Regions from separate parts of the Homo sapiens genome. Here regions 1 and 3 are each linked to region 2. The links come from fine-mapping of genetic effects on gene expression. A gene starts in region 2. Each other region holds a variant in brackets. All regions are shown on one strand. Distances are between the middles of the regions. Region 1 overlaps JHY (junctional cadherin complex regulator). Region 2 holds the start of JHY (junctional cadherin complex regulator). Region 3 overlaps CRTAM (cytotoxic and regulatory T cell molecule).

The links.
Region 1: its variant is fine-mapped to the expression of JHY in lung (GTEx, PIP 0.97).
Region 3: its variant is fine-mapped to the expression of JHY in monocytes (BLUEPRINT, PIP 0.91).

What each region holds. Positions count from the first base shown.
Region 1 is chr11:122,938,155-122,941,007 of GRCh38, forward strand. The region is part of intron 5 of JHY (junctional cadherin complex regulator); the gene reads left to right. Among named protein-coding and RNA genes, the nearest start is that of BSX, 42 kb to the right of the region's middle. The variant C/T (reference allele first, on the strand shown) is at 1,468.
Region 2 is chr11:122,881,196-122,884,048 of GRCh38, forward strand. JHY (junctional cadherin complex regulator) reads left to right here and starts at 1,564. Exons shown (of 9, transcript NM_024806.4): 1 at 1,564-1,777. RefSeq lists a silencer at 1,683-2,042.
Region 3 is chr11:122,844,917-122,847,416 of GRCh38, forward strand. All of the region lies in intron 1 of CRTAM (cytotoxic and regulatory T cell molecule), which reads left to right. Among named protein-coding and RNA genes, the nearest start is that of CRTAM, 7.7 kb to the left of the region's middle. The variant C/T (reference allele first, on the strand shown) is at 1,088.

The DNA of each region.
Region 1 (2,853 bases), 57 kb after region 2:
CATATGACCTTCAGTTCTGGGAAAATTTCTTGAGTCATCTTTATGGGTAGTTCCTTTCAACCATTTTCTGTTTGCTCTTTCTAGAAACTCCTGTGATTCAGATGCGTTTTTCCAGGACCGTTATTATGATTTTGTTTTCTCTTTCTTTCTCCATTTCTTTCTAATTTTGTTCTACTGTCTGGGAGGGTTTCTCAGTCCTAGCTTCCAGCCTTTCTACTGCTATCATGTTTGTTAATTTCCGACAGGATTTTTTTGTTGTTGTTTCTGTTATTGGTTTCTGAATGCTCCTCGTTTTATAGCCTCATGTTTTTGTTCATGGATACAACATCCTTTTTTCTCAACGTCTTCTTAGATTTTCAACAAGGCAAAATAGGGTGTAAGGGCCCTTGTGACTGAATTTTTAAGTGTTTTTAATTCCCTGCTTTGCTTCTCTTTCCTCTAGGTCTTTGTCAGTGATGTTTGTTTCTCTTCTCCTATTTTGCTGCCTTCCACCTTAGGGCTTGTGTCAGATGTCTAGCAATTCTTGATCATCTTCTCATGATCAAGTATGAGGGACTAGAAAGCTTATTGGAAGCTCTGAGTGACAGTGCTTGTTGACTTTGAGTGCCTATAGAATGATCTTTGGGTGCCATGTGATAGGAAGCCCTTCCTGTAGGTTTTAGGTCTTTTCTCTTGGTGGTCAGATTTATTATCTGTGCTTGGTGCTTCACAGGCAGAAGACTTGTTGGCTTCTTCAGAATGAAAACCTCCAGCGAGCTGCGGAGAGAGGGAAGGGACAGTTGCCTAGGTGCACAAAATGGAGAAGATGATCTGGAGATCCGCCTGCTTCTTCTTTTTTTTTTTTTTTTTCCGGAGACGGAGTCTCACTCTGTTGCCAGGCTGGAGTGCAGTGGCACGATCTCAGCTCACTGCAACCTCTGCCTACCGGGTTCAAGCGATTCTCCTGCCTCAGCCTCCTGAGCAGCTGGGACTACAGACGCCCATCACCACGCCTGGCTAGTTTTTGGATTTTTGGTAGAGACAGGGTTTCACCATGTTGGCCAGGATGGTCTCGATCTCCTGACCCCGTGATCCACCCACCTCGGCCTCCCAAAGTGCTGGGATTACAGGCGTGAGCCACCGCACCCAACCCTGACTGCTTCTTAAACAGACTTTCAACCAAATCTTTTTTAAGTAACTCTCACATAGACTTTCACCACCGCCACTCCCACTTACAGCTCATGAGCCTTACAGGATTCTATGGTGTAAACTGTGGCTTCTCTGCTTTCCCTGCTGCTAACTTAGATTCCACTTTTTTGAGTCTGCTAAGATAGTTACCATTCAACCATCTGTTCTCTGCTTCCGAAATATTTGCTCTTTTCCCCCCATTTTGTTCTCTTTATCTTCGTGGGTTGATGTCTTTTAAAAATCTCTTTATATATAATTTTGATTTGCATTTGAGAGTTAAATTGCATGCTTATTCTGCCA[C/T]GTTTTTTCTACCACCTTTTCATTTTGAAATTGTTCACACCTAGTAAAAACTTGGGGGAAAATATCTACAATAAACACCTGTAGTCCTTCATCTAGATTCATCAGTGCTAAAATTTTGCAACATTTTCTATCTATTTACTGAATCATTTGAAAGCAAGTTCAGAATCACAATATTTTATCTCTAAATATTTCAACATTCAGCCCCTAAGAATAAGGACATTGTCTTATACAACAATCACACCATTATCACAGCTAAGAATATTAACGTTATTGTACACAATATCATGTAGTATCAGTACATTTTTAAATTGTATTACTTGTCTCCAAAAAGCCTTTTACAGCTTTTTTTTTTTTAAATTCCTGATCCAGTATTCAGTGTTCATACATTTCATTTACTTTTTGTCCCTTTAATTAAAAAAAAAAAAATCTAGAACAGACTGGGCATGGTGGCTCACACCTGTAATCCCAGCACTTTGGGAGGCCAAGGCGGTGGATCACTTGAGGTCAGGAGTTCGAGACCAGCCTGGCCAACATGGTGAAACTCCCACTCTACTAAAAATACAAAAATTTGCTGGGTGTGGTGGCAGGCTCCTGTAGTCCCAGCTACTCGGGAGGCTGAGGCAGGAGAATCTCTTCAGCCTGGGAGGCAGAGGTTGCAGTGAGCTGAGATCCTGCCACTGCACTCCAGCCTGGGCAACAGAGTGAGGTTCTGTCTCAAAAAAAGAAAAAAAAATCTAGAACAAATTATCCAATGCTCACTTTTCATTGTTTTCTATAACATTGCCTTTTTAGAAAAAATTTATTGTTTTTGGATAGTTATATTTAGGTTGACCATTTCAGGCAAGAATACTACTTGGGTGATTTGGTGTACTTTTTATTACATTATACCAGGGGATACATACTATCAGGCTATCATATTATTGGTGATGCTAAGTTAAACCTTTTGATTAAGGTAGCGACTACCAGATCTCCCCATTGTAAAGGAACATTTTCCCTTTATAAGTAATTATTAATATTCGAGACAGTGTAATTATCCTAGTTTTCAACAGCTTTTTGTACAGTGGTTTTAGCATCCACTGACAGTGCTTACCTAAATCATCCATTACACTGGGGTTGCAAAATGGTGATTTTGTAATTCTATCAATACCTATACATTTATTACATGGCTGTTGAAATAAGACCTTTTCCTCTTCCTTTTTCTCCTTCCTTCCTTCCTTCCTTCCTTCTTTATCTCTCTCTCTCTCTCTCCCTCTCTCTCTAGTATCATTATGGACTCATAAATCTTTTCCTATAAACATGTTAAAGTCTATTACCATCATTATACTGTATATGTTCTCACTGTCTTGGATTTGAGCAGTGGGAGCCCCTTCACTCCAGTTCCTGGGT
Region 2 (2,853 bases):
CGCCCAGCTGATTTTTGTATTTTTAGTAGAGACGGGGTTTTGCCATGTTGGCCAGGCTGGTCTTGAACTCCTGACCTCAGGTGATCCACTCGCCTAGGCCTCCGAAAGTGCTGGGATTACAGGCATGAGCCACTGTGCCTGGCCGAAGAATTCTCTTTTTTTTTTTTTTTTTTTTTTGACAAGGTCTCACTCTCACCCAGGCTGGAGTGCAGTGGCACAATATTGGCTGACTTCAGCCTCAACCTCCTGGGCTCAGGTGATCCTCCCACCTCAGCCTTCCAAGTAGCTCGGACTATAGGCACGCGCCACTACGCTCAACTAATTGTTAAAAATTTTCGTAGAGACAAGGTTTTGCCATTTTCCCCAGGCTGGTCTTGAACTCTTGGGCTCAAGCAATCCTCCAGCTCGGTTTCCCAAAATGCTGGGATTACAGGGTGAGCCACTGCACCTGGCCTCAAACCAATCTTTGAAGGTAGTTATTCAAATCTACTTGTTGTTTTAATGTGAAGATAATTCCTAATGCTTCCTTTCTTTATTCTTTTTTGAAACCTTTTTTGATAGTGAAATATTCTACCCATACATAAATGTACAGCTTAATGAATTTTTACAAGATGAACATCTATATAACCATCATTAAGGTCAGGAAATACAGTCTCAAAAACATTCTTCTCCCTACCTGCCAGAACCGACCACAATCCTAACTTGATGGGAATCACTAAGTGGGTAGTGTTTCCCATAAAATTGCTTTTTTGCTTTTTTTCATAGTTTCCTCCACTAAGTATGGAGCCACAATCACTGTAGAGTGTAATTTAGCCTGTTTTTTATATACAAAAATCATACAGTATGTACTTTTTCTGGGTTTTTGTTGTTGTTCAAAATTGTGTTTTTAGTATGCCTCCATATTGTTACACATAGTTGTATTTCATTCATTTACAGTGCTATGTAGTATGCCAGTATAGGCAATAGCATAATCTAATTAACCATTCTTTTGATGGATAGTTCAGTTATTTCCAGTTTGCATGCACAGGAGCACGCACTTCTTAGGGTAAATACCTAAAAGTGAAATTGCTGGATCCCAAGGCATACATATCCTGGCTAATGTCAAACCATTTTCCAAAATGGTTGGTTGCATCGGTTCTCACGTCCGCCCGCAGAAGGTGACGGTTCTTTGCACTACGTCCTCCCTAGCACCTGACGCTGCCAGACGTTTCAACTTTGGACTTTTCGACTCAACTTATGGTGAGTGTGGTATTATCCGCTGTGGTTTTAATTGGCCTTCTTCTGATTATTAATGAATTAAAGCATCATTTCAATAAACAGATATTTATTGGCCATTTAGATTTCTCGTGTGTTTGTGAAATACCTTTCCATTTACCCATTATTTAATTGGGTTCCTTTTCTTCTTGATTTGTAGCAGTTCCTCGCGTATTTTAGTAGTTTTATTTGTGGCAAAGATCTCCTCCCCCGGGTGGCCTCTGCCCTCCGGCGCTGGGAAGTCCGGGCGGCGAGGCAGCCTCTCCCGGGGCGTTCGGGCTCCTCCGGCTCTGCCCCGATGTCGTTATTACGGCCGTTTGCAGCCTCCGTGCCAGGGCCGGGGGTGCGGTTCGGGACGCGGGATCCTAGGTCGGGTCCTGCCCCGCCCATGTGGCGCCGGCGTCTGTGTTGTCTGCGGTCTCCAGGGCAGCGCCGGGGCGGGCGGGGGCCCGGGCGGCGGCGGCGGCGGCGCGGGAGGATGCGGGGCCCGTCCGGGTCGCGGCCGCGGAGGAGCGCCGGGCAGGTGACGGGCGGTGGCCTCCCGGATCTGGGGTGGGCGGCGCGCCCGGGGAGGGAAACGGGAAGGGCTTACTGGGGATGGGGACGGCAGGAAACCACCCAAGCAAGCTGGGGAGGAGCCGGCGCGGGAGCCTTCGGGACGGAGTGGGGAGCGACAAGGGGGCGAGGCCGCGACAAGGGGCTGGGGGGCCGCCATGCGAGGCTTCGGCGCCCGGGCACCCAGAGCAGCCCTGTTCCCGGTCAATTAGGACCGGTCCCGGGCACCAGGCCCGCCGACTTGTCACTTCCTGGACCTCCAAACGCCCCTTGTGACAGGCCTTGTTCCTCAGGAACAAGCAAAGGTAGAAAACCGAACGCCTCCCCTGGGCAGCTTCCGGCCTGTTTCAAACCAGGGTTCGTTCCTTTTTCTTTACGATTCATCTTGGTGAGCCCAAGCAGGGTTCCTTTTCCCCTCCAGGAGAAAGTTCGATTGTCCCATGCTAGTGGACTAGACCCACTGCAGGGATCCCTGGGGAGCTGGCCGCTTCTTAGTCCCTAGGTGCCATCGGATCTATCGCTGTCTTGTTTATTCAGGAGACTAGTCACCTCTCTTGGTCAGAAATTTCAGCGGCACAACCTTTTTTTTTTTTCACTGGACGGGAGGAGGGAGCCACATTCATGAAATTTAAACGCCCACTTTCTAACTTATTCAAGCTGTCAGCTGTTCCTTCTTCCACCCCATGTTTTGGTAAGATCAGGCCTCCACAGAAAACCCAGCTTTTGTGGCGTTTGGCTTTGCTCTTTGCATACTTTAGCAAACTTCAGGAATCTGCTAACATCAGCAAAATTATCTTCTGTGGTTACTGTTTTATTTTTTATTCATTCCAAGAAAGCTTAGCCTATTTCATTTAAGAAGAGAAGTTCAAGGGACTGAATTATTTTAAGAGTAATTCTAAGTTGCACTATAACGCTTAAGCTTGCTCTTCAGGATCTCAAATTCAGTGACCTTAGCTCCTCCAGTAAAACCGGTGTTAAACAATCTCTTTTACTTAAAATGTGTTAGTATTTGATAGATTTGCTGCTTTCTTGGCACATCCTAAA
Region 3 (2,500 bases), 36 kb before region 2:
GTTGGTGAAATCTAAAATAACACATTTGGGGGAAGAGAATCAAGAGTTTGTGTTGTACTTGTTAGGCTTTCAGACTTCTAACTGATCATCAGAAAGGTGATGAGGCCAGATGAGATGACCTATGGAGTGAGTATAGAGAGTCTATCCAGGATCTGACCTCCGTTGTGTGAAGGGCAGATTGATGAGAAGAACCCGGAAATAGAGCTGAGGAGCAGCAGCTGCCAGTGAGTTAGGAAGGGAGTCAAAAAGAGACTGACATCTAGGGAACCAGGTAAAGACACTGATTTAAGGGGCAGAGAGTGATCATATATGGCGAAGGAACACCATAGGTTGAATAAGATATGGTCTGAGAATGGAGCATTGGTTTGAGCAATGTGAAGGTCTTTGGCAACCTTGGCAAAGAGAGATTTCAACGAGGTAGTGGAGTTGAAAACCTGGTCAGAAAACAAAGAGTGGGATAAACAAATATAGATAGTTCTTTAGAAAAATGTGTCAGTGAAAGAGAGGGAAGGCAGGGCACGGTGGCTCATGCCTGTAATCCCAGCACTTTGGGAGGCAGAGGTGGGTGGATCACTTTAGGTCAGGAGTTCAAGACCAGGACAACATGGTAAAACTCCGTCTCTGTACTAAAAATACAAAAATTAGTCAGATGTGCTGGTGGGTGCCTGTAATCTCAGGTACTCGGGAGGCTGAGGTAGGAGAATTGCTTGCAACTGGGAGGTGGAGGTTGCAGTGAGCTGAGATCATGCCACTGCACTGCAGCCTGGGTGACAGAATGAGAATCTGTCTCAAAAAAATAAATAAATAAAAAGGAGGGACATAGGGTAGAATAGGGTAGTATAGGATAGTAGCTGGAAGGAAATCTGACATCATTTTGTTTATGCATTTTAATATGGGATGAATAGTATATATTTGTGTGCTGATGAGAATGACAGTTTTTTTTCTTAATTTTTTGTAAAGACAAAGTCTTATTATGTTTCCCAGGCTGGTCTCAAACTCCTGGCCTCAAGTGATCCTCCCACCTTGGCCTCCCAAGGTGCTAGGATTACAGGTGTGAGCCACCACATCCAGCCAGAGAATGATACAG[C/T]TAAAGAGAAAAAAAACAATGATGGTAGAATTATTTTTGTACCAAATCATCTTTTGAGAGATGGAGCAACACAGAAGGGAATTCCTTGTGTAAATAAATGAGATGGAAACTAGTGTCCAAGTGGAGATACCGGGTACCCACTCCATTCACAGCAATGTAGGGCACGCCAAGTATGCAGGATCTAAAAGCAAGTAGATGTGACTTGGGGATGACATTGAGAAACACATATGCAAATAAGTTAGCATTTCAATAGCAAACAATTTATGTGATGAAGAGAAGAGAGAAGTGGGAAAACATATTATTATTTAATTTAATTTATTTTTGAGATGGAGTCTTGCTCTATTGCCCAGGCTGGAGTGCAACAGCATGAACTCAGCTCACTGCAACCTCCTCCTCCCGGGTTCAATGATTCTCCTGCCCCAGCCTCCTGAGTAGCTGGGATTACAGGTGCCCACCACCACGCCAGGCTAATTTTGTTCGAGACCATGTTGGTCAGGCTGGTCTCGAACTCCTGACCTCAGGTGATCTGCTCACTTCGGCCTCCCAAAGTACTGGAATACAGGAGTGAGCCACTGCACATAGCCATAAATTTTATTATTTCACAGAGTTCTAACACCTCTGTCTGTCTGTCTGTCTGTCTCTCTCTGTCTTTTCATCAAATAATGATTGTGTACCATGAACTGAGTGGTATGATTAACTACACCTTTGGTTGGAATCTAAGGTCCAAAATGAAAAGAACTCATTATCACCATTTGCTCCTCAAAACCTTTAATCCTTCTGAACTGTTCCAATTTAGATTTACTGCGACTGGAACTGCTTCTTCCTTAATGTCTACTAGGACCTAACTGCTTCTTCCTTAATGTCTACTAGGACCTTAGAATGTTTAATAATAAATAGTCCTGTAACACTGGGGAAGGAGATCCCTAGTGAAGAGCTGCAGAGCTACAAGGCTTTGTCTTTTGACACTGACTCTTTCCACTTTTCTTTGTAAAGCAAGAGTCAGTTCAGCTTTTCAAATAATTATTAAGCACTATATACCAAGTAAAAGAAGAATGTCATGCTTACTATGGACTAAGTACTACACTAGGTTCTTTACATATATTTTTTAATTGCCTCAATGACTCTATGAGATGAATACTATTGTTTTTCCTGTTTTTATGGTAAGGAAATTCACACACTTAAATTGCCTAAGTTCGTGCTGTTAGTAGTGGAGGAGCCAGGATTCCAACCCAGTCAATTTGGCTCGTGTGCGTGTGTGTTACCATTGCATCATATGCCACCCAGGTTAGGGACACAGAGATGATTATAAACAGCTCCTCGGTGCAACAGGTTCAGATGGTACAAAGCCTAGGGGTCTATTGACAGATAAGACAATCAAGAGCCAGAATGTTCTCAGAAAGCTTGAACCCTCAC